3 linked regions of the Homo sapiens genome follow. The protein of the gene in region 1 purifies or fractionates together with the protein of each later gene. This does not show direct contact. Each region holds a gene or a part of one and is shown in the gene's direction. Other genes may lie near its edges.

Region 1 (10,152 bases):
GTGGGCGCTTGGCGAGGCAAAGGGTGTGTGTGTGTGTGTGTGTGTGTGTGTGTGTGTATGCGCGCGCGCGTGTGTTAGTGGAGTAGCAGCCCATGCCGCGGCTGGACGGGCAAAGGGGGCGCTGGCAGCGAAGCTGAGGCCGCTCGGAGGAAACGGGAGCTGTCCCGAGGCGCGAGGCGAGGAGATGGGGCGGGCGAAGTCCGCCGCGCGCCTTGGGGCTGTAACTCTGCGGCTCCGCGGCCGCGCGGACTTGCTCCTGACGCCGGTGCGCGGCAGGCAGAGGCTCAGGGCCTCCGCGACCCCAGAGGTGAGCTGCTGGCTCTCCCCGACAGTGGCAGCAGTGGCCCGGGAGGTGCGCCGACCAAGCTGCCTCCTGCCTTGGGCTTCTGACACCTTTACAGCCTCTGAAAGGGTCCCCGGAGACCCCAGAGAGAGGCGGGTGTCGAGGGGCTACGAGCTCGCGGCTGACACCCGCGCTGCGGAAGAGAATGGCACTGATTGAGGGCTCTGGGGACCTGGGTCCTGGCGCCTTGGACCTTAGGACCATGCACTTCCCGGGGCGCGTTGGGGGATGATAGGAAGATTCTGGGAGAGAAGGGGGAGAAGTGGTGCTTTCGTCCTGACGCCACTTAACTTTTTCCTGTCCTTGAACCCAACCTCACCCCGGGGGACCTTGGCGGACAGAAGATGCGGGGGTTTCAACCAAACCATCCACGATCTAGAAAACACGAAAATCCCCCAAATCCCGGTATGGCCTGGGACTCATGAGCTGGGGGGTCTTGTGGATACGGTTGGCACATTACCCCAAATCTTCCCTTCCATCCAACCCCTCCTGACGCCCCGAGTTGGGGTTCCTAGAGGCTTTAGTCTTCTGCTGTGATTGAAGAACCACGCGCGGCCTCACGCCGGTCGCGCTCCGCAGTCCGGAGTATGCCTCTCCCAGATTCAAACTGAAACCCAGAGGCTCGTTTGGGAATTCGTTTCCTTTGCCTCTGCGGGTGAATGATTCCCGGTTGTAGTTCTGGGGAGTGAAGGGATTGGGGGGATCGATCGCCCAGGCAAGGAAGAGGGCAGGTACCTGTCCGGGGAACCTGCAGGGGCGGGGGCGTGTAGCCAACTGGGGAGAGCCGCAGGGTCCCTGCCAGTTGCGGCGGCGCCGCTCCTCCCCTCGGCTCCGCAGCCCGGCGACCCGGCCAAGTTCAAGGCCCTGAACCTGCAGGGGTCTGAGCACTCTCAGCCAGTAAGTAACGAGATGCACCTTCCTCTCCTAGAAGCCGAGCCCCGCTGCGGAGCTCCCGGCGGCCCAGCCCCGAGGCTCTGCGGCCGCGCCGCGCGTCCCTACCAACCGACACCATGAACACCATCGTCTTCAACAAGCTCAGCGGTGCGGTGCTGTTTGAGGACGGAGGCGCCTCGGAGCGGGAGCGGGGTGGCCGGCCCTACAGCGGTGTCCTGGACAGTCCTCACGCCCGCCCCGAGGTGGGCATTCCCGACGGCCCGCCCCTCAAGGACAACCTCGGCCTGAGACACCGGAGGACCGGGTATGCGCACTCCCCTGGGGGCCCTGCCCGCCTGCGGCCCGGAGGGGTGGGGGTGGTGAGCTGTGACGGGGTCCCGTGGCAACGCGGGCGGGTGGACGGGAAAGGGCCCGGAGTTCCCTGGGAGTGCAGGTCTGCCCCTCCAGGGCTCGCGCATTCTCATGTTAAGGGGCTCCTATCTTAAAACATGAGGGATCAATTCGTCGGGGCAGCTCCAAAGAGCTTGGTGGAGACTAAGGGCGCCAGGAGCTGCCCCTCGGCCCTCCGCTGCCTGGACCTCGGAGTTGGGGGTTATTTGCCCCTCTCCGGACTGTGGGTGCCGGTGCGCGGCTGAGGGCGAGGAAAAAGGACTGAGCTCGGTGCAGAGAAACAGGCGAAGCCGAGCAGTCGGGGAGTCCAGGCTCAGGCTCCGCGGACTTCTCTTCGGTCACTCGAGCCCCTCGCCAGAGCCCCGCGGCTCGCCTGGCCCAAGGAGTCGGGAAGGTCGCCTCCCGCCAGGGAGTCCCGGGCGTGAGCGCGGCTCGGCTGGGCCCGCGGCGAACCCGGAGGGGGAGGCCCCGGGCCTGCGGGGCCGGGTTTGAGTTTAGCGGGGTGAGGGGTATGCTGGGGGGGGCGGTAGCTTGCGGGTGGGCCAGCTGCTCAGACTGCCGGTGAGTGGAGGGCAGGCTCTGCCTGGCCCGATCCGGCGGCTCCCCGGGCGCCCCGCCGGGGAGGGGCGGCCGTCCTAGCCGCCTCCACCTGAACGATTGCATCAGCTGCTTGTTCTGCGGCGTCGCTGCTTAGTAAAACAGAGATTCGGTTTCGTCAAAATGTTACTACCAGTCGTTTCGGGTGGAATTGCATTTCAAAGTGTTTAAAGAGGCAGAAACCCAGGAGGCTCCGGCGCAGGCGCGCAAGCCTCGGGGAGCGGCTGGGCTCGCTGGCGGCCGCGCGCGACACCTCCCGGACCCGTGAGGGAGCGCAGCGCCCCAGGCCACGCTCCAGGCTCCTGGCTGCCTCTGCCTCCTCCCCCTTTGAATGTGCTTTTCCTGAGGTCTTTTTACCTTACATGATGGGACAGAGCTTGCCGTACTTTTAACCCTCCCTTAGTCGGGAAACGGCCCGACGGTGTTTTTGGGTTCTGCAGCTTTCCTCCACAAACCACCAACTCCTTTAGAAAGTTTCCCCCTTTTCCTAAAAGATCAAAGGAAATAGCTTAAAGAGAGCCGGGGCGGCAATGCTCCTTTGCTTTATTCCCTATGTCCAGTCGGCGACCTTTCCCCTGACCACAAGCGACGGAAAGCCTCTGGGAGCAGACAAGAGATCCCCGAGGGAAGTTTCGAGAGCCAGCCGCATACCCTGCCAGGCCTGCCAGGCCAGGGCCACTCGAGGGTGCGGCGCCAGCGGGTGAGGGAAGGGTAGCAGTTAGCCCCGCTGCCCAGATACGCGACTGGAATAGCAGTATTCTTCAAATCACTTGACCTTCGTCTTCTAAACCTCTAACCTTGGGGTATTGGGTTCAAGGTATCCCCCTATTCAAGATAAACCTATCGAAATGATCTCCCCATCCAGAAACTGTGTGGCTCCCACTTCCTGCCTCTCCCAAACACTCTGGGCGCGCGCAAAGCAGGGGCGCAAGGCAGGAATGCGCAGTTTGGATGCGGGGCCCGGGCTTGGCCGGGGCGTGGAGCGTCCGGGCGGGCAAACGCGTCGCTCACCAGGGCCGCCTCCTCTCCCCATGTCCCAGCGCCCGGCAGAATGGCGGGAAGGTGAGGCACAAGCGGCAGGCCCTGCAAGACATGGCGCGACCCCTCAAGCAGTGGCTTTACAAGCACCGTGACAACCCGTACCCCACCAAGACCGAGAAGATACTCTTGGCCCTCGGCTCGCAGATGACGCTAGTGCAGGTAATCAGGACCCATTAACACCCTGATCCGTTTTCCCGCGAGGGGCTGAAGAGCGGGAACGCTTAGAGTTCGTGTGGCTCTCCACGTGGCGCTTCTACCTGGAGAGGGATGGAGCCGAGCTGTGGGAGTTTCTGAATTACCTCTCACCCTCATCCCTCAGTTCAGTGCAGATGCTCCGTGCAGGAAAGAATGCAGGATGCGCTGTCAGGTAGGGAAGTGAAAAGTAAACTGCAGACTTACGAGAAGGTTCAACATTAGTGAGCATCAGAATCGCCTGGAGAGCTTAAAACACGAATCGCTAGGCCCCACCTCCGAGTTTCGGATTCAGCAGGTCTGGGGTGAGACCATCATTTGCATCTCTTACAAGGCCCCAGGTGTTACTGAAGCAGAGGCTAGGGAGGAACCCCACTTTGAGAACCACGCAGTGTGACGCTCCATATTAAGGCCCAGTATTAAAGCTCAGGTACAGAGTAACTTTCAAAATTACCATTACTGACAGCTAGGAGTAGGGGATAGAAAGACAAGAAATGATGTTTGGATCAACAACCCCCCACACACACTTATTTATTATTATTTTTTAATAGGAAGCATCCTAAACATTAGCTGCAATCCACAGCATTTTGCTCCTGATGCTTTTCTGCTGGGCTTAAGGAGAGGAGGCAGATTTCAGATGGTTGGGTTACTTTGCCAAGTGTAGAGAAATGGTGCAAAGTTTGTGTGTTCTCTGGTGAACAACGTTACTTTACATTTGACTAGCTTTTCAAAACTGAATCTTACTGTTCACAAAACCACGATGTTGTAGGCAGTTACTATCAGAATTTTACACTTGACATAATCAAGACTTGGGGCAGTTGTGTCAGTAAAAGACAGGCCTGGAAATAAATAATTCCAGACCAAATGCTCTTCCCGTCATGTCACAATTTTTTAAAATAAATACGGTGGCTTGAACTTTTTTACATGCAAATAGGCAAATTTATTCAGAAAGAAGAGGAGGAGGGGCTACATCAGGTGAAAAGTTTTGCACATTGCGGTAGCATTACCTGATTGTGAAAATTTGGCCATTCCGCTAAATTTACAGTAAGCAGGAACTCCAAAAAGGAAAAAGGAACTAGTGGATAAAATAAAGATTGCTTTCCAGAGTATTTAAAATTTCCCTTTAGGAATTACTGGAAAGTTTGACAAGGCATGAAAGTTGACTTATTGTCAGGCTATCAATACTAGAATACGTAATTTCTGCTTATTTTCAGAATATAATTATATACAAAAACATCTGTTTTCTTTCATATTATCAGGCAATGGTATTAATAGTGATTTGCTGCAGCAGTGGAGGGGAAAATTAATTTAGTGTTCTTGGCTTAATATCTGTTTAACATAAAACTATGAATCTTTTAGCAATGTACCAAAGTAGTTTTGAAATAAATTATTCCAGTCAGAAAAACCTGACTTATGAAAATAAATAACCTATGTTAAAATTTCAGTTTAAATAAGTATGCTACTTATTTTTAAAATACACTAATTTATAGAGTTATCTGAATATTTCACAGTGATGTCAGCAATGAAACACTAGGTTATTTTGGCTGATTATAGAGCTTCATATTTAATAGAGACTATTCTTTCATACAGAAAACAAAAGAACATTGATGACATATTTTAGGACATTTTTAAATTATGAAGTAGCATTTGTCATTAGGAGAGCCATTTAAACTTTCTTATGTAGTGGTTTTTGTTGAGCTGCAATACAAGTAGTTATAATTTTAAATTATTTGCCACCTGTAATGATAGTTCAAATACAAATAAAAATGCTTTTTACATTTAGATCTTGGTAAGGCTATTACATTTTTAAAATATGCTTTACATGAAATTTTCATTCAAAACACTTTTTTTCTCTTACACTAGTGCTCAGAAAATAAAAATGCACAGAAATATGTAATTTTAAGTGGGGTAAGATAATTTTTATAATAATAAATGACAACTGTATAATGATTTCAAATTTTATTATTAATGAAGCTAGTTTCTGAAACTTTAAAGTGATAAATGGAAAAAATAAAAATGTATAGAATTACCAACGGATCTTATGGCTGATCCTATGGCTGATCATTGTTCAAATGCTATAGAAATACACTCTGTACTCTCAAAATATAAACAGCTTTATTGTGGAATAGTATAAAATGGTATGTGATTGGGGTTTGTATTATTGCAGGATATGGAACTTATCAAGGAGTAATGAGTAGATGTTAATGCTTCCTCCTCTAATAATGAAAGTCTCATATTCCTGTGATATGTCCACATACGATTTGTTAAAACTGCTATGTTCCTAGATTCTGTCTCCTCTGTTGACATAACTCTGTTTTTGCTTGGTATTGAGTGTGCCTGCTGATATATATATGCCATTATCAGCTACAAGGCTTATAGTAACGTTAAATATTCAACAAAATCTCAGATCAGTCCTTATTCATTATTCCAAGTGTTATATTACATGGTGTGGAAATGAAGTGCTCAATATTTCAGTTGAATAGCTCAGAAGTTCGTTAATTCAGTGTGTTCAAACATGGACAGATGCCAGTTTATCCCTTTGGGTGTACTATAACAATTGCTCTGTCAACATGATGAATGTAAACACCTTTGTTAAAGTAGGATGAATATTATTTAGTTTTCCCTCCCAGCTTCTAGATGTTTGGCCTTCTAATCTTTCACTATAAAATATGGGAGATAGATAGATAGATACTGATATAAATCATAATTATATAAATTAGTCATATCTAACTATCTCCCATATTTTATAGTGAAAGCTTAGAGGCCCAAACATCTATACGTATATACACATATAGCATTCAGTTTGACATTAAAATTCTGTTCCAGAACCTATCCTTGGTTAAGGAGACCTGTTTCATGTAAAATACAATTTGAAGAGAATATGAACGACAACCCGAAGGAATCCATAGTAGATTAAAAGTGGAAAATTTGAACCGATATTTTTACCTTCAGTGAAACAGATGGAATTTGCATTAATTCATCCAGAAAGAAATGCAAAACAAGTATATGCAAATTTGTTAACTAACTATTTGCTGTTTGCAGGACCTACTGCAAATACACATTAAAGACCTTGGAGTGTATCTAGCTGTTAAGTTGTACTGAAAAAACAAAAGAACAAAAAACCCCAGCAGAATATATATATTACCAGATTGGGTGGTGGTCAATTTATGAAATCAGTTTTGAAACAGTCTATAATAGACATCAGCAAACCTTTCTGGAAAATCACCTAATGTGTAACTATTATAATATGGTTAAAAAAAAGACTATGAGTATATAAAACTTAAAAGAGATATGACTCCTATACATGAAAAGTTAGTTAATCCCCTGTGACATTTAAATCATTTAAATGTTCCCCCATTTTTATCTGTTAGAAGGGTAGTGTATTACTTTTTTAAAAAATTAGAAGGCCATTGCATTTTCATTATAAGAAGAGTTTCATAAGAATTGGATTTTACACTGTACTATGTGTGGTTGCTGTGTGAAGATTTAAGGTTAGTTAAGATTTAAGGTTAGTCTGAATTATATCCCATTGAGTAAAGAAAGTTACAAAAATGTTTTGGAGTTGGATTCTAGTAAATATGAATGATCTAGGGGAAGTTGCAGGCTGTACTCTGTGTGTGAAAGGAGCAAAGAAGGACAAAAACACTCTTGCTGGAGACAGTACTGGTCAACAGAGGGAGGTTAGTACCTAGTATAAAGGAAATTAACATTGCTGTAGGGGAACTTGGGATGTATTCACCCATCTTAATTTTTAGAGCTAGCAAGGATATTAGGAACCATCAAATCCATTTTAGAGATGAAGGATTCAAAGTTCAGAAAAGTTGAATAATTTATCCAAATTCACACAGCATGTTTTTGGCAAATTCAGAACAGGAAGCCAGGCCCTCTTCCACTGTATGGTGATTATGGGATAACAGGACATTTATGAGGATTTGAAGAAGTGAAGTGACTAAATCAAAATGGTGCATCAATTCTTGAATTTGATGATACTTGCTAAGATCCATTTAAGAGAACAGAATGGAAGACAGGGAAGTTAGAAAGAGAAATGTTTTCAAATTCCCAGCTAGTAGTATGGCTGGATAAAGTAGTCGGATGAAGATTTTGGCAGTGAGTTGAAGAATCCAAGGGAGTTTGAGAAATTTCATGAAGAAAGGGATCAGGCTCCTTGTGCTTCCACAGCTAATGTTCACCAGTGTATCCCAGTTAATTATGTGTAGTTCTTTTCCGCTAGTCCTTCTGGGAGTGCAGAAGACAAAGCTTATTCATTCCTAGGACTTAACACCATGGCTAAAGTACAATAGTCACTCAATAATTTTGTTGTCTGTCTGTAGAGAATGGGAAGGACTGAGAATTTGAAGTCAGACTGAATCTTAGTAATAGTAACATAGCTTAGCAGGAAGAAGCATTGGTGAAGACTGACTTCTGAAATGCCACAGTGAGATAATATGTCATTGCATATAAATTTGAAAGGATAACTATCATTGCTTCAGGTACAAAGAAGACAATATTAACTATATTGAATATTAAATACATATGGGAAACCCACCGTGTGTTTACCCATGAGGACAGGGAGAAAAAGTATAATTTGAGATTTTTTTTTAAGTAGAATAATAAGGACTTGAGTAATGCACAAAAAATGTGTATTTATAGTATAAATCTAGAAAAAAAAAAGTAGAAATTTCCAGTGCAAACATTGCCACACAAACCATTATAGTAATCTGGCCTTTCTTCAAAGCCTAGCTTAAATTCCTCAGTTTGGTCATGTTCTGGACCAAACTGGCAGAAAGATTTAATTCTCTTCCCATGTTTCATTCTTTTAAAGGCAAGTATTGCCCTTTTGAGTTTCTAAAAATCTATGCACTGATGATAACCTGGTATTTTAGAAGAAATTTCAAGTATCAAATCCAGTAACATCTTTAAAAAAAAAAGAATGGAAGTAGCTTTTCTTTGTCTTGACATATTTCTTTCTTTGCCTTCACCTATTTGTCTAAGAAACATTTGACTTTTGGCTTAAAGTGAGGAGTTCTTTGGTTTATTTTCCCCCTCTTCACCCATGGTTCTACCTCTGTTTTGCTAACGCCTCTTTTGGAAGCGAACAGATCCCACTTTTTTCATCTCTAATGGTTTCCAAAGCTTGGCCCTTGACCCTGCTTTCACTCTCTCTACTCTTGCAACTTTGACTATTACCTCTGTGCCTTTTCCTCTTGAATTTGCTCATCCCCTCCCTTCAATCTCAGATACCACTTTTATTTTCTTACCAGACATGTCACCAGTATTAGCACCTCAAACTAGACATTGCCCAAGCCAAACACATCATTTTATCCTCAGAAAGTTTCATCTCCTTCCCCAAATGCACTACCCTTCTCTTGGTTCCACAGGTTTGATGACTCAAGGTCATCTTTAACTCTTCCCTCTTCTTCAACCCCTACAATTTCTGTGGAATTTCACTTCTATTTGTTCCTGTGTCCTCTTTATTGGGAATGCACTTCCCTTCCCTCTTGACCTGACCTATTCTGGACTTTCTTCAAAGGCTCACTTAACTTCCTCAAAAAGGCTGGAGTCATATATGAAAGTAACCCCTCTTTCCTTTGGACTCGTATCATTTTAATGTCTTGTATGCCATTCATCACATTCTTTCTTATACTAGTTATTTGTATACCCTCCTACTTCTCTTACTGGACTTTTCTCTTATTAAATTTTTTGATGTCAAGGCCTTTTCATTTTTCCTTATTCCACAAATACACTAAATGCTCAGTGTCTGTAGTAAGCAACATGTTTGTCAAATGAATGAATGGATGCGAATGTCCGGTATTCTTATGTCCTGAGAATATTTAATGATCAGAGGTGCTGAGAGAGGCTTAGCTCCTTTATGAGAAAATAATCGCACCATGGATAATGTTTTTAAGTTTTGTTAATTGAAAAATAATACTGTTTTAGGTGTCAAATTGGTTTGCTAATGCAAGACGTCGGCTTAAGAATACCGTTCGACAGCCAGATTTAAGCTGGGCTTTGAGAATAAAGTTATACAACAAGTATGTTCAAGGCAATGCTGAACGGCTTAGCGTAAGCAGTGATGACTCATGTTCTGAAGGTTTGTTAATATTTTTATTTTGCTTTCTTTGTTTTGCCTCTATTAGCAAGTTCACCATAATTGCTATTTTTAAGGTTGCTCTCACAAAATATGATGGTGCCTTAACGGTTCTTTTTTATTGCATGAAGTAACTTCATTTTTATAATACTATAAATGACCAAAGGAATGATGGCCATTTCCTCTTGTTTATAGATATACCATGTGTCAGAATAACATATTCAGTGAAATTCATTAAAATTAAAATACCATAAGCGAGAGATGACATAAATATTTGCTTTCATTGCCTAAAAATTGATCTTGACTATCAAAGATAATTTTATATACTTTAAATATATTTCCTTTATATATTTTTAAGGATTAAATATAAGAGTTGGGTGGCTGGGGGAAAGTATGCATACCACCCTACTTAGTGATACTGTTCCACTTTAGATGGAGAAAATCCTCCAAGAACCCACATGAACGAAGGGGGCTATAATACCCCAGTTCACCATCCTGTGATTAAAAGTGAGAATTCGGTCATCAAAGCGGGAGTGAGGCCAGAGTCACGGGCCAGTGAGGACTACGTGGCACCCCCCAAATACAAGAGCAGCTTGTTGAACCGTTA
Region 2 (10,152 bases), on another chromosome or scaffold:
AAATGAGCTCACTGCAGAGATGCCGCTGGAAGCAGCAAGGTACAGAGCAGGCAGGGCGGCCCTCTCACCTGCCCTTCTTAACTGTGCCATGGGAGCGGGAGATTCTGCAGGCTGTGGGGTGCAAGAAGTGTCACGGAGCCTCTCTCCCAGGACATCTTGTCATCCCTGCCAACGTGGCAGGAGAGGGTCTTTAAGGTCTTAGAAAGAGACTGTGTTCACGCTTGAGACGTTTTTATCATGTTACTAAATGGGGCTTCTTGGCTGGGTGCAATGGCTCACGCCTATAACCCTAACACTTTGGGAGGCCGAGGCGGGTAGATAGTTTGAAGTCAGGAGTTCAAGGCCATCCTGGGCAATATAGCAAGAACTCGTCTCTGCAAAAAAAAAAAAAAATTTAAATTAGCTAGGCGTGATGGCATGCGCTATTCAGAAGGCTGAGGTGGGTGGATCCCTTGAGCCCAGGAATTCTAGGCTGCGTTGAGCCATGATCGCACCACTACACTCCAGCCTGGGTGACAGAGCAGGCCCTGTCTCTAGAATAAATAAATAAGTAAACTAAAGAGGCTTCTTGATTGTGCTGTTCATTGTTGTAAATCCATGGAGCTGTGCAACAGTGAGTAACTCCAGATGTCCTCCCTCCCTACTGCAGCCCCTGCCCTTGATGTGGACTGGCAGAACAACACGACCTTTGCCTCCTGTAGCACAGACATGTGTATCCATGTGTGCAGGCTCGGCTGTGACCGCCCAGTCAAAACCTTCCAGGGACACACAGTAAGTGAGAGCTCTTGTCACTGGTCTCGAGTTTGTGAGAATGTGATGTGGGAGCCGATTCTTGTGTGCCTAGAATTAAAAGCTACTGCAGCAGCAGACCAGCTCTAATGTGCCCCTTGGCTATTTGAGCTGTCATGGTTACCCCATGGTAACCATGGTGGTTGGATTGACTCAGTTTGGGGTTGGCAGTGAGAACAGTTCACTCAGAAATGACCTAGATGGTGGATTTGGCAACAAAGCCTTTAAGGTAGCCATGAGAAACATGTAGAGGACATCAAGGAAAGGATGCTCACAATAAATGAATAGACGGGGCACATCTGCAGTGAATAGAAAAAAAAATCATTAAAAAACAAATGGAGACTAAGTGTGGTGGCTTATGCCTATAATCCCAGCACTTTGGGAGTCTGAGGCCAGAGGATTGCTTGAGGCCAGGAGTTTGAGGCCAGCCTGAGCAACATAGCAAGACTCTGTCTCTACAAAAAATTTTAAAAAGTAGCTGCGTATGGTGATGCACACCTGTAGTCACATCCCAGGAGCTGAAGGCTGCAGTGAGTTACAGTAGCACCACTGCACTCCAGCCTAGGCAACAGAGCAAGACCTTGTCTCTTTAAAAAAAAAAAAAAAAAAAAGAAAAGAAATTGAGAACTGAGAAATATAATGTCTGAAATGAAAGTCTTAATAGGTGGGTGTATTAGGCAGTTCTCAATTCTCTCATTGCTCTAAAGAAATACCTGAGACTGGGTAATTGATAAGACAGGAGGTTTAACTGGCTCACAGTTCCTTAGGCTATACAGGAAGCATGGCAGCATCTGCTTCTGGGGAGGCTTCAGGAGGCTTCCAACCATGGCAGGAGGTGAAGCAGGAGCAGGCACCTCACATGGCCAGAGCAGGGGCAAGAGGTGGGAGGAGTGGGGGGGGTGTCACATACTTTTAAAGGACAAAAACTCACGAAGACAGCAAGCCACGAGGGATCTGCCCCCATGATCCGGACACCTCCCACGAGGCCCCACCTCTGCATCAGGGATGACAGTTCCACCTGAGATTTGGGTGGGGACACCGATCCTAAACCACATCCGTGGATTTACCAGCAGATGGGAGATTGCGGAAGTAAGGTTAGAGAGCATAGAAATTGGCCAATTTGAAGAACAGATAAAAGATCGAAAAAATGCATAAAGGCTTAATGGCTTATGGAACAATATCAGAGACCCTAAACCTATATGCGTGATGGGGAGAGAAGAAAGAATGGAACAGAAAAATCATTTGAGGCAGTAACAGCCAAGTTTTCCTAAATTTGGTGGAAAACATCAACATTTAATCCAAGAAGCTCAGCAAATTTCAAGCAGAACAAATATAAACAGAACCACACAAACAGAACAGACCATATCCACCTAGGCATATGGCCATCAAACACCAGAATCAATGACAGAGAAAATCCTAAAGGCAAGCAGAGGCTGACAAATCCATTATATACCAGGGAACAACAATGGGAACAACAGCTGACTTAGCAAATTCCTTAGTTTGGCCTCTGAGGCGCTTCCCGGTCTTTCACCAAATCTCCCTCAGATTAGCCAATTTCTATGGTCTCTAACCTTCTGCAATCTCCAGTCTGCTGGTAAACCCATTTACTAGCCTCGACCTCCTGGGCTAGTGTCCAAAAATTCCCTGTGCCTCTGTCCTCCTAAAGACACGTGCAGCCAAGCACCTTGCCCCGCGCTGAGCCCTGCCTGGAATGCTCCCTGCCTTAGACCCCCACAGCAGCTCTCGGTCCAAAACAGAATCCTCCCCAGTCTCCAGGCCCATTCACGTATCCTCTGCACGCCCTGGGGAGGATTCACGGCACCCCCTGAGCTCCTACTGCCCACATGAATGCCACAGCCCTGGCAGTAGCTGCTGGCCTGCGTGTCTGCCTCTCCCAGAAAACGCAGAGTGCATCAATGCTGGGACCATGGCATCTTGCCTTTCTCTCACCAGCACCCAGGATATCTCTGTGGTGGGGCAGGGTGGGGGTCCCTTGTTAAAGCAGGAGAGGATGGTCACAGTCCCTGGAGATTTGCCATTGTGCCACTAACTTAACTGATGTAAATTCCCTTGTCCTGATTCCCCTAATGCCCACCTCTCCCCACCCCTGGCCCAGGGGTCCCTGTCCCAAAGGAAGGCGCTTTTAGAGCACAGGCACCTATCGTCCTGTTAACATCTGTTTGGCTCCAAACTGACTCTCTTCTCCCGGTCTAAACTTATTTCTCCTCTAACCCTGGACTATCCACAAGTTTTTAATAGAGCTGTACACACTATCTGCAGTTCCCAGGTGTCCTGCCCAGGACCTTGCCACCAGCACAGGCCTTGGCCCTTTAAGTGGGTCTTAATGTGGCTGATGGCCCTGAACAAAGCTCCAGCTCAGTGGGGTTGAGTGGAGACCCATGAGCCGGCTCTGGAGGCGGCCCAGGAACCGGGGCTTGCATTGCAGAGCTAGGGATCCGCTCCCAGGAAGTTATTTGTTCCTTTGCATGGGCTTGGCTAGGGACAGCCAGTGGTGACCAGCTCTACATTCCTGGGCCCATGAGTTTTCCTCTGAACAGCTGCAGTCAGAGCCACCCTTGCTGGCCTTGCATACACATTCACACTCATAGACACCCATGCGTGTGCACACTCACAACCCTCAGCCCCCTCTCCAGTCGGCCCCCTCCACCCTCCCGGGCTCTCGCAGCAGCCTGCCCCTGGGCCGCGAAACTTCTTCCTCCTCCCTTTCCTGGGCCACGTGTGCCTCATGGAACACAGATGTGGCCTTGTCACTGTCCAGTTCACACCCTTCAAAACTCCATGTTCTTAGAAAGCAACCTGACCATACAGTTAATCCAAACCGGAGCCCTTAGGAGTATGAAATTTAGAAAATTCATTATGAGTGTGTCATTAGTTAATTGTTAGGCCGGGACAGCAGGTGTCACATGGTGGGACTGGACTGGACATATGGGGCCCTATAGTCACCCCTGAGGGAGCCCCAAGCTGGTACGCCATGTCCCCTCATTTCTCCTGGGTAGGCTGTTCCCCAGCTGAACCTTTGCCACAGGTGGTTCTTTTACACATGCCTGTCCCGGTAGTGTCCCCGTCTCCCTTGGCCCCTGGGTACATTCATTCACCTTTATCCTCCAGGGTTTAGCCTCGTGGTCCCCAGGTGTCCTGAGCCTGTGCTTTTCGCTACCTGGCTGTGCCGATCACGAGCCCCCAGCCAGGATTTTGCCTGTGTCATGTGTGTTTGTGCCACTCAGCATTTGCCTCTCACTTGTGTTGCACATGTGTGCCTGCCTGTGTGTGCATTTGGGTCGCCCATCTTCCACCTGGATCAGCCCTTACCCCGCTTGAACTCCGTAATAGGTGAGGGTTCACTTCTCATGTTTACCCCTCCCTCCGCCTCCACTCACCTGCAGGAGAGAAATACCTTCTAATGGGTGTGGACACTGGAGGAACTGTTACATTAAAAGTGCATAAGAGGCCTGGCATGGTGGCTCACGCCTGTAATCCCAGCACTTTGGGAGGTCGAGGTGGGAGGATCACTTGAGCCCAAGAGTTCAAGACCAGCTTGGGCAAAAATCCCAAAAAAAAAAAAAAAAAAAAAGGGCATGGTGGTGCCTGCCTGTAGTCCCAGCTACTTGGGAGGGTGAGGCAAGAGGATTGCTTGAGTTTAAGAGGTACATGCTGCAAGGACCTGTGATCCTGCCACTGCACTCCAGCCCGGGAGACAGAGTGAGACCCTGTCTGAAAAAGAAAAGTGCATAGGAAAGTGATTTTCAAAGGCCAATTTAAAAAGTAACTGGTTTTACTGGTTTTATTTGCTGCGTTTTATGGTATGTGATTTCTTCACTTGCCTTCCTTCCTAGCAGGGAAGGTTTTTTTCTTAATGAAGTATGGATGAGAGTGGCTGGTGTTGTGTGGTATAGGGCTGTGGTTTTATATAAATGAAAAAGGCAAAGTGAGAAAAAGAGGAAACTAGATGGCTGGTTGGGCTGTGCCCTTTGATGTCAGGCTGAAGCCGAAGACCTTCTGCAGCGCCGGTGGCGCGCTGCTGCCCCCTGCTGGAAGGTGACCTCATCTACTCACAGGCCCTGATGTCTTTTTCACACTCTTCTGCTCTCTTTCAGAACGAGGTCAACGCCATCAAATGGGATCCGTCTGGAATGTTGCTGGCATCCTGCTCGGATGACATGACATTGAAGGTAGAGTCGGCATGGCAAGGGGTGGGCTGTTTAATCCTAGACAACCCCGGGCACTTGATGCCAGTCTCACGGTCACTCTTACATGAGGATTATTTATTACTGACCACCCTCCCTTCCTCTGTCATCCGGTGAGCTACGATTTCTCAGTCATAGTCCCACTGAGAATCGCAGCCTCCCTGCAGCCTTTCTCACCACTGTGCACCCTCCACCCTGCCCTGGGCCCCGTGTGCACCCCCGGGAGGAATGATTCCACATCGTTCCCGGATGCAGGAATGGCTTTTGCTCATGTTGTGTCTGGTGTGTTCTGTAGATCTGGAGCATGAAACAGGAGGTGTGCATCCATGATCTTCAGGCTCACAATAAAGAGATCTACACCATCAAGTGGAGCCCCACTGGGCCCGCCACCAGCAACCCAAACTCCAACATCATGTTGGCAAGGTAAGGGCAGGCAACACAGCTGGCACAGCTCGGTGTTACACAAAGACAACAGGAAATTCTGCTAAAGCGCGTCCATGCACGTGTGTTGAAGCCCTTCAGAGGAAGCAAAGCGGTAGCTCACTTTGAAGGGGCCAGGATAGAATTACCGAGTAACACCTGCCTTTGAGGTAAGGATGGTTTTGAGTCAGGCACAGTGGCTTACGCCTATAATCTCAGCACCCTGGGAGGCCAAGGCAGGACGATGGCTTGAGCCCAAGAGTTCAACATCAGCCTGGGCAACATGGTGAAACCCCATCTCTACAAAAACTTAGCCAGGCGTGGTGACGTGTGCCTGTAGTCCCAGCTACTCAGGAGGCTGAGGCAGGAGGATGGCTTGAGCCCAGGAGATTGAGGCTGCAGTGCGCGGTGATCACACCACTGCACTCCAGCCTGGGTGACAGAGCAAGACCATGTCTCAAAAAAAAAAAAAAAAAAAACAGAAGAAGAAAAAAAACCACCCAACATGACTGCAGAGCCACAGTTGAGGGACAGCAAGCCAGGCAGCACCAACTCCTGTTGACGGTGCTCGAATTAAGGTCATCTCTTAGAGAGGACAGGATGGAATTCCTGCATCCACTGAGAGACGGAACCAAAAAAACAAAGAACACATAGGCCGTAATTCTCATATTTCAAGTAATTGTCATAAAATCCACTTAAAGTACTGTGATATAGTGTGATATAGTACTACACACTCGAGTTGTTTTGTGATGACTCAGAAGGTGCTTTTGCGTCGCGTGGTACTATTAGGAGCATAAATTATCCTTTTAGTCAGCAAGTATAAAAGGGGCATCCCGGTACCTAATGGGTCCCTGTTGAAAGAAAGCAAGCCAGACAATAGCTTTGTGATAGATATTACTGTTCTAAGTTTGAAAATAACTAAAATTTGCAGCTTTCAATAATGTGATTACGTATGTGGATGTGATTGTATTTTAATTCTTGTTTGATTAAAATTTATTTTCTATTTAGAGACAGGGTCTCCCTATGTTACCCAGGCTGGTCTTGAACTCCTGGCTTCAAGTGATCCTCCCACCTTGGCCTCCCAAAGTACTAGGATTACAGGCATGATCTACTGTACCTGGCCTAAAAAGTTTTTTAAATGTTTATTCACTTAATTTGCTATTTTTCCAAATATGGCTGTCTGTATTAATTTAGTTGGTAATAATAGATGTCATGTTTTAAATTGTAGGGGCATTTTAGGAAACTTGATAAATATTCTACAAAAATATTTACCATTTACGTCTATAGGAAACATAGAAACAGGGCTGGGCGCAGTGGCTTACACCTGTAATCCCAACAGTTTGGTAGGGTGAGGCAGGAGGATCTCTTGAGCCCAGAGGTTCAAGACCAGCCTGGGCAACACAGTGAAACCCCGTCTCTACAAAAAATAAAAAAATAAAAATTAGCCGGGTGTGGACCTATGGTTGCAGCTTCTCTGCTGAGGCTGAGGCGGGAGGATCACTTGAGCCCAGGAGTTCGAGGCTGCAGTGAGTCATGATCACGCCACTGCACTCCAGCCTGGGCAACACAGTAAGACCCCATCTCAAAAAAAAAAAAAAAGGTGCAGAAACAAATGTAGATATCAAATTGTTTCCCTAATAAGACCATTAAAGCTTTTTTTCTGTTTAATGACTATGGCTTTGTTTTTAATACTTGTAAGTAGTTACAGTTTAGAAGACAAAAAGCTTTTTAGTTATTATCTTTTGAAACGTAAAAGCTGGGAAAAACAACTCCTGGAGATCTGATACACATTATGGAGAACTGTTTGAAACCACCGTGTGTATGTGATTTTGCTTTCTCTCCCACCTTGCTAGTGCTTCGTTTGATTCTACGGTGCGACTGTGGGACATAGAACGAGGCGTCTGCACCCACACGCTCACGAAGCATCAGGAGCCTGTCTATAGCGTAGCTTTCAGCCCTGATGGGAAGTACTTGGCCAGTGGATCCTTCGACAAGTGCGTCCATATCTGGAATACTCAGGTAAGCTCCCGACCCCTACACCAAATCCTTTTAGTAAGGGATGCCCAAATAGCCACGACTCCAGTGCCCTTGGCTCAGAGCAGTGCCCCGGAGGGAGTTGAGCAAGCTCAGGCTCCCCGGGCAGACCCAGTGGATGCTGTCCACGTGCACCCCACGTGGGCTGTCAGCTCTTCCCCCACCAGACACCTCCGGCAGCTCCCCTCCCTGAGGAAGGGCGTCGTGTCCACCGTAATCATGGCTCTTGGCCATTTGATTCCAAACCCTCACCTTGGCACACGTTCTTCCTTGAAGGAGCCGCTGTCTTCTGTTCACTTTTCTGAGTCCATGGCACGAAACCTTCCACCTGCCTCTTCCTCTTCTTAGCAGTTATCACCGAAGTGCTGCTCTCTAGATACTGAGGTTAGAAGGTGGGAGTGGGGGACCAGCTAACGGGGTCAAGGCCACACCAGCTCCTGCAGCTCCCTTACGGAGCAGACCAGGGAGTGGGAAGGAATGTGCTCTTGCTGTTGTCATGCCACTTCAATTTTTCTTTTCTGTTTTGTTTTGTTGTTGTTGTTTTTTGTTTTTGTTTTTGTTTTTGAGACGGAGTCTCACTCTGTCACCCAGGCTGGAGTGCAGTGGCGCGATCTTGGCTCACTGCAACCTCTGCCTCCCAGATTCAAGCAAGTCTCCTGCCTCAGCCTCCTGAATAGCTGGAATTACAGGCACCCGCCATCATGCCCAGCTTATTTTTGTATTTTTAGTAGAGACAGGGTTTCACATGTTGGCCAGGATGGTCTTGAACTCCTGACCTCAGGTGATCCGCCCACTTTTGCCTCCCAAAGTGCTGGGATTACAGGTGTGAGCCACCGTGCCTAGCCTCAATTTTTCAAATCAAAGTAGGTTCTGTTTGAGGACATAAGGTATGTCAATATTGGGTTGTCCTTTTAGCAGGGATTGAAAGGACATAGGATTTAAATAAAGGTGGCTGCTGTGGGTATCTTGGGCCACACCTGAGGATAGAAGAATTCCAGCTGTAAAGTGTAGAAATGGATGGGAAGTAGCACTGCATAGCATAAAGGATTGTATAGGGCCATCAGCACGTGATTCTAGTCTAAGGGAAGAGAGAGGTGATAATATGCTAGGAGCTGTTGAAAATAAGGAAGGGGTCCCTTTCGCCTCAGGAGGGGAGGAATCACACAGCCTTCCCCCTGCCCCCTTTCATCTGCACTGCCTTCTTGGTTCCTTTTGGCTTGGTTGACATTCAGGTGGATTTATACCCTCAAGTTCATTCCCCCTGTGGACTCAATGGTGATGAGCCCTGTTCACTGGCAAGGGGTCCACTGAGATCACAGGCTTCCCAGGGACCTCATGTGAACCACATCCTCTCAGGGAAGGAAGGGAAATGGTGGACCCTGCGTAGAGCCAACCCGACGCCAAGCCCAGCCCCACAGCCCTAGATAGCTCTCCGGGAAGCACGCATCTCAGCACTAGTGTCCAAGAGTCTCCGTTCCTGAAATCCTCGCTAGAAATAGTAATGGGTGGATTTGTAAAAAGAACACATCAATTATCAAAACAATGACATGATCAGTTAGGTACAGCCTGTTGTCAGGAACTCACTGAACTGTTTCAACCCTTTTTTATAAATCAAAGAAATCCTTAGGACTTTTCTTTTTTTTTTTTTTTTTTGGATCGGAGTTTCACTCTCGTCACCCAGGCTGGAGTACAGTGATGCCATCTCGGCCCACTGCGACCTCTGCCTCCCGGGTTTGAGCGATTCTCCTGCCTCAGCCTCCCGAGTAGCTGGGATTACAGGTGCGCACCACCACAGCCGGCTAACTTTTGTATTTTTAGTACAAACGGGGTCTCACCATGTTGGCCAGGCTGGTGTTGAACTCCTGACCCCAGGCAATCTACCCACCTCGGCCTCCCAAAGTGCTGGGATTACAGGCATGAGCCACCGCGCCCGGCCAAGAAATCCTTAGGAATTTTCTTAAGAGAAATCTTAAAGCCCACTTTAATCTTTCTCCAAGTATAAAAATACTTATCTGTAATACTGCCGACACACACCTTTCTCAGTTCATGGAACACCACCCTTTAAGGGGCCCAATTGAGCAGAGGATTTGGGACAGCCCTCCTGGTCTCGGTGTTCAGATTTCTCCTGCCTGTCACCATAGTGAATCATGAGTGAAGGCTTATTCGACTCTTTCTCTCTTTTTTATTTTTTAAAATTAATTTTTGTAGAGACGAAGTCTCACTGTGTTGCCCAGGCTAGTCTTGAACTCTTGGGCTCAATCCGTCCTCCCGCCTCGGCCTCCCAAAGTGCTGGGATTACAGGGTGAGCCACCTCGCCTGGCCTTATTCAACTCTTTCAAAGGCCTCAACTTCCCCTACCTCTTAGATTTGTCAAGTTAATGCTGTTTTAAACCGGAAACCAATGGTCTGTGGTGTTTTCCATTACATGTATATTATGCATTTCTTCTTTCAAATGTCCAAAAATACGTACATTTTAATGTCATGGCATATTATTACATTTAATCATGAATTACAGTCAATTTAATTGCTACTGGGGTGGGTGTATTCATTATGTTGTATTCATTCAGGTCCTCCAAAGAACAGACACCAGAACAGGATTAGATGGGCGAGAGATTTATTGGGGGAAAGAGCTGTGATGGAAACAGGGAGGAAGGTAGGGGGAAGGGAGAATTCAGACCATAAGGCCAGTCTGACCCTGGGAAGG
Region 3 (10,152 bases), on another chromosome or scaffold:
AGCTTGTCATCTTGGATAGGCTGAATGGGAGGTATTTTCAAGGTGCATGGTTTGTTGCCATGTGCTTTTAAGTAGATCTGCCACCTCTAGCTTGACTTTAGGTTACCATAAAGCTGCAGAGGTCACTTTTCTGATTTGTCAGGGCCGAACACCTGAAGCATATATTTCAGTTTTCATAACAGGACCTCTGATCTTTGTCCTGTTATATTGACTGGTTTCATAGGAGAATATATTTTTGGATTGAGTTTTAATTCTTCAGTAGCAGCTGAATAATAAAATAACGTTGTTACATTTATGATTCAGCTTAATGAATGATTACATTATTAGTATTCCTGCCTGTGTTTTTTGTTTAAACATATAACGTCTTTCAAGAATAGTGTACATATCTGTCTGGGCACTGTGGTGCATGCTTATAATCCCAACATTTTGGGAGGCCAGGGTGGGTGGATTGCTTGAGGCCAGGAGTTCAAGACCAGCCTGGGCAACACGGTGAGACCTTGTCTCTACAAATAATTTTTTAAAAATCAGCTGGGCATGGTGGCATGCACTTGTAATCCTAGCTACTTAGGAGGTGGAGGCGGGAGGATCACTCTAGCCCAGGAGTTAGAAGGTGCAGTGAGCTATGATTGCACAGCTGCATCCATCCTGGGTAACAACAAGACCCTGTCTAAAGAAAAAAAAGGAACATACATACATTATTTTAGCTTCTTTTATAATCCCCTAGCTTAGGAACTGGTCAGTAAATATAGAGTGAATAACAGATTTATACTGGAATTATCTTTACTAGTTTGTTATACTTCCTCTTTAAGATGTTTTGTCAAAGAAATTCTGAATTTATTTTGTTTCTCTACATGTTAGCTAGACTCATGTATCATTTAGCAACAACAAAAACTTATTTCATGTGATAGACTGACTGTTTACTTCTAGCTATTGTTGGCTATGTCAGAGAGACCAGATACCTTAGCCAAGAATGGTTATCAAGACTGGAGAAACTGAATATGTGTGTGAGTAATCTTTTGAGAACAGGCTGGTATTATCTTTTTGTAAAGGGATCATATTACATTTCTAGAATTTCAGAACTTATTTTTATAGTTGAAGCTAAGTCCCTCCTCTGATTGCTAGAAATAAAGCTATGTAATATTTTTATTTCAGCATTTGGATTTATTATAATATGTATTACGATTTTTAAGATTTTGTTTTTCATTCTTTTAGACAGGTGCTCTAGTTCACAGCTATAGGGGAACAGGTGGAATATTTGAAGTTTGCTGGAATGCAGCAGGAGACAAAGTTGGAGCCAGTGCATCAGATGGTTCAGTAAGTATAGTAAAGTGTTTCCAAAGAGGGTGTGGGTGGGTATTCACATCAGAATGCAGCTTATTGTTAGTGATACCAAAGTGTTTTTTTCAAAATAAATTTTAAGGTATGATACTGATTTTTTTTTTTCCTGAGGCTGTAAACTTTTCATGTGCGTTGGATTCAAATAATGTAAACAAAATTTAGGCTGTCCTTACCAAATACCTTATAATCTAGAAATGGACAGTTATTTTTAATATGAACCTTCATTTATGAAATTAGGTATACCAGAGGAACATTCTGAGAAGGATTGAAATGTTTAATGTGTATTTCTACCTTCTCCTCTTCACAGAAGAATTTTTTTGGCCCAGGGAAGGCAGAACTAGAGGCAGTTGGTTCCTGTGTTGAGGAATGTGTGATACTGAAAGATTTTCAGGATGAGGTTAGCCAACTCTTTACAACAATGCAAATATGGCTTCCAAAGCTGTAGAAGCACCAGAAGGTGGGAAAAGGGTAGCTATTTACTGATGCTGTAGCTGAATATAATCTGTGATATCTTTCATTAGGGTCCAATAGATAGGAAATGGTCTGTTTTGAGCATTTTCCCCCTCCTTTTTAATCAACAGAGAGTATAAAAATCCTAGCCGTGGTTCTTCCCCCACAGTTTGAGCTCATGGTTGTTCTCTTGATCTGCTTAAATGATCTGTCTGATTTCTGTCAGTTAAGTGCTCATTTCCATGATTATTATGCTTTACCAATTTTATAAACTTGGAACTAAGAAACATTTCAAATTGTACTATAGAAAAGTTAAACATAAAATGTACAATAAAATTCTGAATACACTGGTTGATTATTTTAATTTCTTACAGGTTTGTGTATTAGACCTTCGGAAATAGCGCTACTAGTTGGAAGCCATGGACCGACTATGAATGTGTACATAGCCAAAATGACTGTCCCTGACCCATGTACTGCTATAGTCCCACTTGAACCATGGCCAGTCCACTACAGCCAAATCTAAAAGAAATATATACATACAGTGTATATAAACAAAATTGCACCCTGAAGATGACAGAGTTTTGTCACAGCTTGTGAATTCTGTTCACCAAGTGCTGGAATCTAATCTGCTGTGCCCCTAAAATAGCATTTAGAAGTTTTGGATATGAAAAACAGAAGAGAGAAAAATATACATTATAAAAGCAGAACATACATGTACCAGTTTTTGGATACTAAATGACAGCCTTGTTTCTCCCCTTTGAATCAGCAGACACCATGGATTATATTCTTTTTTTCCCTTCAGTAGTGAGCAGTTTGTATGTACAGAGAAAATGGACTTACAAAAACTTGCAGCAGTAGTTTGTTCTTGCTTTAAAATTTCGTTTTTGGTTTAGATTATGGATGCATGAAGTAAGGGAGTGAATCAGTTTCTTGTTTATATTTTTTTCACCTTTTAAACAAAAAATTCTTTAAAATATTTTAATGCATTCTTTTGAAGAGGTAGATGTTTGGTACATTTTATGGCTCCCAGAGCATATATTCAGTTGGTGCATGTTGTGGAAGGGGGAATTGGAAATTAAATGAAAACCTATGACTTTGGTCATGTCAATCTGTAAGACACATCAGTAAAAGGGTATTATGCTCTGTTGGTTTTGTTTTTTTGTTTTGCTTTTTTTTTTTTTTTTTCTTTTTTGTTTTTTGGTGATGTGGCTTAAATGCAATAGTTTCTTTTTTGGGACATATTTCTGCCAATTAAAGACTAGAAGGGCACAACTTTTTTTTTAATTACCATAGAGAAGATACATTAAAAAAAATCTTCTGATGTTTTGTAGCCATAACTAAATTATGGTAAAAATGTGCACTATTGTGAAAAGGAGCAACGTAGTTTTGGGTTTTTTGTTGTTTGTTTGTTTTGCTTTGTTTTTTAAGAGATTAAAATGTTTCTGGATAAGGATTAGCTTCTCGAAGTGTCCATCATTCTGTGTAGAAGCTTAAATATGTAATGTAACCAAACTCCAGTATTAAAAATCTCTCATGTTGTTTTCTTTATACAAAGCAAGATAACGGCATATAACACTGCCATTACATGGCAAAATGTTTGCTACCTTAGTTTAAAAAACAATCTCAAACAAAAGACTTGCTTCAAGGTGTTTTTAAATAGCAGTGATTCAGAATTTTTTTTAATGAAAGTATAATTGCACTAACCTTCTTCCTGCTGCTCTGATTCTGCATTTGTGGTACTTGTGACTACGTTTTTTCAAATATAGATAGATTTAAGCTGCTAATTTTTTTTTTTTTAGTAATCACTACTATATCATGTCTTTTACTCTGTTTATAATATCAAGTATTTTCTTAAAGATATAGATATTAAACCTTGTGCTCATGCAACTTAGAGTAACATATACAGACAAATGATTGCATGAGGCCATGTTTATATGTGTGACTAATAAGGCTTGTCATGATTAACATAATCCAGGTATGTCATTTCTGAAGAGAATAGTCATCAAATTTATATCTCGAAGATTTTAATTAAGGAATTGCTTATTGTTGAGCTTAGCAAATTAATAACACTATTTCTGTCACTAATTATTTTGAGGCCTTTTAGTACTAAAATTTTAACCTGTGTTCTAAGTAGAAACTGATTTAACCCAAGTAATGCAGCTTTGATTGATTTCAGCATTCGTTGCTTTGCTATTTTTACAAAACAGCATTGATTGAAGCAAGTCTTGGTTTTACTAAGGTAGGGTAGCATTTGCTATTGGTAAAGAGAATAAATACACTTAATTTCACAATACATTGTTATATGTACCCCAGTTGTTGTTAGTGGGGACTATGATACTGTAATAATATTTTTAAAAATTTACATCAAGAGAGGCAGTCATTCACGATGGTTTTGTGCCAGCTCTTTTTAGGGTTTTGGATCACATTAGAGATATTTAGAACATATTACCCTGTGACTTACGTAGGAAACCTAATATGCTGAGTATCTGGCACTTGAATTCCTGCTTTTATTGCTGGAGGTCCACATCTGTGGTTGACCTCTGTTATTGTTTAAAAAAAATAAATAAAAATTAAAAAAATCTGTGCAATAATTTTAAAATGTGCTCCCAGGAATAGACACAAATGTTTTGAGTATCTTTTAAGCTGCATTTTCCTTTAGTGATGCATTTGTCAATTGCACTGAATTTAAATCTGAAAGTCAGAGGTGATTATTGATAGTACTTTTGTATTTTGATATGGACAGTTTATTCATTTGCATACAGTTATTGACTTTTTCCCAGCTGATTAAAAGATAGTCAAGAAATTCTGCAATATAGCTGCCAAAATAGACAGCTACATTTTTATGATATTGTCATCTTTTCTGTTTTTTTTTTCTTTTTTTTCTTTAGCTATTTTACTTAAGCATAATAGCCACAATAGGACATATAAAAGATTATAAATACAGAGCTTTATTATCCTGACGTCTTGGGTCTTTTAAGTATATACTTTTCTGAAAGGTATCCATTTTGTAGGCTTGGGTTCTTCATGAGCATACGATTGTTTATTTTTGCTGCTGTTCTCAACATCATCATTGCCTGCTGATGTGCCACGATGCTGCTCCAATAGACAGCAATAAGATTGTCTCTAATTTGAGCAGTAACATGATTGCAAGAGACCAAGTTTCACAGCTTGTAAAGTTCTGTATTTGGGATTCTTGCTTATTTTTCCGCCTGTGTTTTTCTGAGAACTTATTCCTGATGATCAATTGAATCCAGTAGTTTTTCTATGCTATTTGTTGTTGTATAAGCTACTGTAAGAAACTTATCATAAGGAAAAATAGAAAGGAAAACTTGAATCAATACTCATTGATTAAAATGGAATAAAGAAAGAGCAGCTGCCACTTTTAAACAACATAAAGGAATATCTTTTTTTGTCTCCGTGTAGGAAATCCCATAAGTTCTTATATTTGTTCCAGTTCCCATTTCCTGCCATTGACCAGATAACATCATTGACTTTCAAATGACTTTTAGAAGTGATAACTCTTAATTTCCTAATAGATACTAGATTGTATTGAATTCTGTTTTAATTATTCTCTAGGTAAGTATGTTTTAGGATTAAATACCTTTTACAGATACTGAAAGTGCCTCCTTTTGTGGTGTAAAAAACAAATTATGGTGCAAAAAGTAATCACTAGATTGAAATACATGAAGGTTTTTTGCTTTTTGACATACGAAAATGTCAAGAGAAAGGCCAAAGATTTGTACTTTTTCACTTACAAAGCACTCCTTTTTCCCTTAAACTTCTTTCTGTCAAATTAGATTTAATGAGAGAGTACTATTTTTAAGGAGCTATCTGTTTATGTAGAATGATTTTGTTAAGAGTAATGTAAACTATTATTGAGTAGAGGCCTAAAGAGGACTGTGCATTTTTGCTATTTAAAGGAATCACAAATGATCATACTTAAGTGAGCAAAAATGACAAGTTTTACTAGCTAAGTAGAGAAATAAATCTCAAATGCAGCGCTACAATTTTCATTATCTTAAGTACATTGTACATTTCTACAGAACCTGTGATTATTCTCGCATGATAAGGATGGTACTTGCATATGGTGAATTACTACTGTTGACAGTTTCCGCAGAAATCCTATTTCAGTGGACCAACATTGTGGCATGGCAGCAAATGCCAACATTTTGTGGAATAGCAGCAAATCTACAAGAGACCCTGGTTGGTTTTTCGTTTTGTTTTCTTTGTTTTTTCCCCCTTCTCCTGAATCAGCAGGGATGGAAGGAGGGTAGGGAAGTTATGAATTACTCCTTCCAGTAGTAGCTCTGAAGTGTCACATTTAATATCAGTTTTTTTTAAACATGATTCTAGTTAAATGTAGAAGAGAGAAGAAAGAGGAAGTGTTCACTTTTTTAATACACTGATTTAGAAATTTGATGTCTTATATCAGTAGTTCTGAGGTATTGATAGCTTGCTTTATTTCTGCCTTTACGTTGACAGTGTTGAAGCAGGGTGAATAACTAGGGCATATATTTTTTTTTTTTTTGTAAGCTGTTTCATGATGTTTTCTTTGGAATTTCCGGATAAGTTCAGGAAAACATTCTGCATGTTGTATCTAGTCTGATGTACTTATCCATCTCATTACAAACAAAAACACACAGACTGCATTTGTAGCTCTGTAATCCTTGAATACGGAAGTAAATTTTCTTCTTTCCTGACTTTGACATTGTAGCTATACTGTTTCCATTTTTGTTTTTACAAATCCTTTGGGTCTAATTCTGTGAGCCTACCTATAGCACTGGATTAAAATGTCTGCATCATTTCTTTAGTTATCCAGTTAACTTTAAAACTGTTGTAAAAGTGTAAACCAGCCCATGACAGGTTTTTGTACATGTTAAAGAACTTCATTGTTCAGTTTTCATGATTATTGTGTAAGGAAGACTGATGTAGATGTTCTGTGCTGTCCTGGACCATGTTAATTACACTTACGACGTATTTTAGTTCCACATCACAATGATTTGTCCCCAGTGACCCTTTTATCCTTTCTAGGCACATTTCTTGTTGTTGTTGTTGTTGCAGTTCCCCTTTGCATTGTATTGCTTTGACAACTGTAATTTGAATCAGATCTGAAAGAGGTCCAGAATAAAATATATTTTGATATTATGTTGGCTGTGTACATATATAAAACCTTTGATGTCTATGTAGTTTATATAGACTATTTACTAGTCAGGTAAAGAGAGAGGGATGGTATTTCTTGTTTACAGTTTGTTTACATTTTAATTGCTTTTACTTCTCCAGTGTTCTATTGTAGAATAAACCTTTTTTTCCAAGTTAGCCTTCATAACCTATAACACATTCATTCTCTCCCATACTGGTGTTACTGATTAATAACTGCCATCAGAACCCAAACCACTGTTTTTCATAAACGTATTGTTTCCCAAGATATATACTTTAAGCCCATAATAAAATTACAAATTTTACTATTTTTATTACTTCTTGCAGGAGATAAGATTTTTTTAAATGAAGGGGTTATTTACTATTTTTATTAAAGTATAATAGAGCATCTAATCAGCTAAGGGATTGTAATTTTTAATTCTTTTGAAAAATAAATATTGTATTTAAAAGACGTTATTTCACAGAAGCTGAAAAAGAGACCTTAGATAACATTTGTTTGGTTAGCCACACGGTTGAGCACAAAACAATGTGTAGATGTGTTGAAGATTAGGGCAGGAGGCTCAACTTCTCGGTGACCTTTTTTTGCTTCACAACAAGCCAATTATAGTTGAATCATTTTCTCTCTTAGCTAGTTGTTACTACAAACTTTATAAGAAAAACAACTAGACACCTTCTAGTTTTAATTAATACCAACTCCTTTAGAGTTAGAGACTTTTTAAAAAGAATCATTGAGCATATTTTCTTTTTTTTTTTTTTAAGAATTTACACTCTCTAGGTCTTCTATTTTTCCTGTTTATTTCCTTAAACAGAAATAAATTCAAGCATAGTTTTATGTTTTATTAGAAATAAGCCACTGCAGTTGCTAGAACTGACATGCTTTCATTTTCAAGGGGTTAACTTTTATTGCATGGCATAGATTATTAGTAATATCCTGCATTGTATACTTTTCCAAAAAGGGTTGGACTCCTAAGGATTAGAATCCTTATAAGCTTGAGGGAAAGCTGAAACTAATTTGAACAGTAATAGAAGGGATTATTTTTAATTTCATAGTTAACACTTTACAATGGATTAGATTTATTACCTAGTATAATCCGTAGCAGATCAGATCAAAGTTTACTGTTTTACCAATATATTCATTTGAAAAAATACAGTGGAGGAAAAGACACTTTAGATGGTAGTTTTATGGTGCTTTTCTCTGCTGTACCAAAGTGCTTTGTCATCAATGAAATGTTAACCCTATGCTACTTTTTCTGCATGCTTCTTAAATGTCATCTTAATGCTTAATTGTCCTAACTTGTAATATTTTTGTATTAAATTTTTTTAGGAGTTCCTTGTAATTTCTTTACAATTTAAAATATATTAAACACAAAGTGTTTAGTAAAGTACAGAAGACAATTACTAATGTTTCTTGGTTGTTGGGTTTGTATGATCCATTGGGCAGACAATTTATATTTTAAGAACTAAGACCAATGGGGTGGAATCTATACCGAAAAAGATATCACAGTCTTATTTAAAAAAAAAAAAAACAAACTTTCTGACATACTAATCTAATGTCAGAACGAGCTGCCTTAAGAGATGTTGTGCTGTCAGAAAGCCGTAAAGCATAGGTTGGATTGCCACTGGGCCGGGCTCCTGTGGAGAAAACAAGCACTGCCTGAGCACCTCAAATAGACTTGCATTAAAAAATCTAGTCACATTGAACTTCACAGTCTGAAATCAGACATTTAAAAACAGGATCAGCTTCCAGGATCTCTCACATTCAATATAGGGGATTTTGAAGAATCTACACACTGCCAAGACAAGACCTTTTCCCTAAGCTTTTATTGGTTTAATTTACGTACACTTGCTGGACCAGATCAATTATCTGATTTTCCAACCTGGGTCCATGAGGAACAGTGCTCCCCATAGAGAGGGAGGAATAGCTAAAACTCCTAGCAGAATGAAGAGCTGCCATTTGGGATGGCCTAGAGTCATCAAATAATTCAAGTTAAGTTTAATATGACATAAAAATTAGCTATGTAATATGGATTTTAATATTTCCACCTGAAATGGTTGAAATATTTTAGTGTGTGGGAATAAACTGAAGTTGGACAGATCTGGTGTTGAAGTAAATGAAGTCTGATAAGAGTCAATTAGCGGTAAGTTCATTCTACTTCTTAAACAGTGTTGGTTAACTTGGAATGTGCGTTGGAATCTTTTATGCCTTGTCCTACCCATTGACCAATATGGTAGCACAAGGTATGTGTGCTGCTTTTCATATGCTTGTTTGGTTTTGTGTCATAATGTGGGAGGTGGTTGTCACTAGCATGTGGTATATTTATTGTAGAGCACATGCTGGTTAAAGAAATTTAAATACAAGGTATAAATAATAAATGTTCATTTTCAAACTCCCAACCAAGTCCTTAGTGGTATCCACTGTTAACAACTTGACATATGTCCTTCTAAGCATTTTCAATACCTACTTTAAAAAAAATACAAAAGAGATCATAATCATTGAATTCAGAAACTCACTTTTTCACAGAAACCATCAGGGACCATTGTCCCATCCACTTAAGTACATTCAAGTACTTCCCTATACTGTAGATGTAGAATATACTGTATGGTTTAAAGAGCATGAATTCTGCCTGACTGACTACCTGGGATGAATCCAGACCAGCTGCTTGGCCTAAGGAGTTGCTGTCTTGGTTTCCTTGTCTGTAAAATGGGGATAATGATAGTTACTTTTCTCATTGATGGGTTGTGAAGATTACAAAGTTAATATATCTGAAGCCCTTAGAGAATGGTGCCTGGTTATATAAAGCACACTGTATATTACCAAACATTTTTATTCCTAATGGTAAGATTTTATTGTACACCAAGATTTAGCCCCCTATAATGTAAATTTACTTTTTCACCGTTTACTATTACAATGGAGCAATAAAATATTCATATCTACAGGACAAATAGAACAGTCAATTCTGATGTACACTCGTTTAATACACACTTCAAGGATTCTTTAAAACTCGCCTCCCTTGGACGGGCATGGTGGCTCACGCCTGTAATCCCAGCAATTTGGGAAGCCGAGGCGGGTGGATCACAAGGTCAAGAGTTTGAGACCAGCCTGACCAACATGGTGAAACCCCGTCTCTACTAAAAATACAAAAATTAGCCCGGCATGGTGGCGCACGCCTGTAATCCCAGCTTCTTAGGAGGCTGAGTCAGGAGAAT

Evidence for each region.
Region 2: the proteins of MKX (region 1) and TBL1X purify together in Homo sapiens (affinity purification with mass spectrometry; 3 studies listed by BioGRID and IntAct, with this or other methods). This does not show direct contact.
Region 3: the proteins of MKX (region 1) and TBL1XR1 purify together in Homo sapiens (affinity purification with mass spectrometry; 3 studies listed by BioGRID and IntAct, with this or other methods). This does not show direct contact.

What each region holds. Positions count from the first base shown.
Region 1 is NC_000010.11:27,734,617-27,744,768, reverse strand, and holds part of MKX (homeobox protein Mohawk), read left to right. Parts: exon of another isoform or gene 1-307; intron 308-376; exon of another isoform or gene 377-748; intron 749-1,271; 5' UTR 1,272-1,353; coding exon 1,354-1,541; intron 1,542-3,264; coding exon 3,265-3,424; intron 3,425-9,394; coding exon 9,395-9,548; intron 9,549-9,977; coding exon 9,978-10,152. UniProt on the Homo sapiens protein: May act as a morphogenetic regulator of cell adhesion.
Region 2 is NC_000023.11:9,704,344-9,714,495, forward strand, and holds part of TBL1X (F-box-like/WD repeat-containing protein TBL1X), read left to right. Parts: intron 1-649; coding exon 650-771; intron 772-4,904; coding exon 4,905-4,979; intron 4,980-5,289; coding exon 5,290-5,417; intron 5,418-7,267; coding exon 7,268-7,433; intron 7,434-10,152. UniProt on the Homo sapiens protein: F-box-like protein involved in the recruitment of the ubiquitin/19S proteasome complex to nuclear receptor-regulated transcription units. Plays an essential role in transcription activation mediated by nuclear receptors.
Region 3 is NC_000003.12:177,017,535-177,027,686, reverse strand, and holds the end of TBL1XR1 (F-box-like/WD repeat-containing protein TBL1XR1), read left to right. Parts: intron 1-1,212; coding exon 1,213-1,314; intron 1,315-2,162; coding exon 2,163-2,189; 3' UTR 2,190-8,343; downstream 8,344-10,152. UniProt on the Homo sapiens protein: F-box-like protein involved in the recruitment of the ubiquitin/19S proteasome complex to nuclear receptor-regulated transcription units. Plays an essential role in transcription activation mediated by nuclear receptors.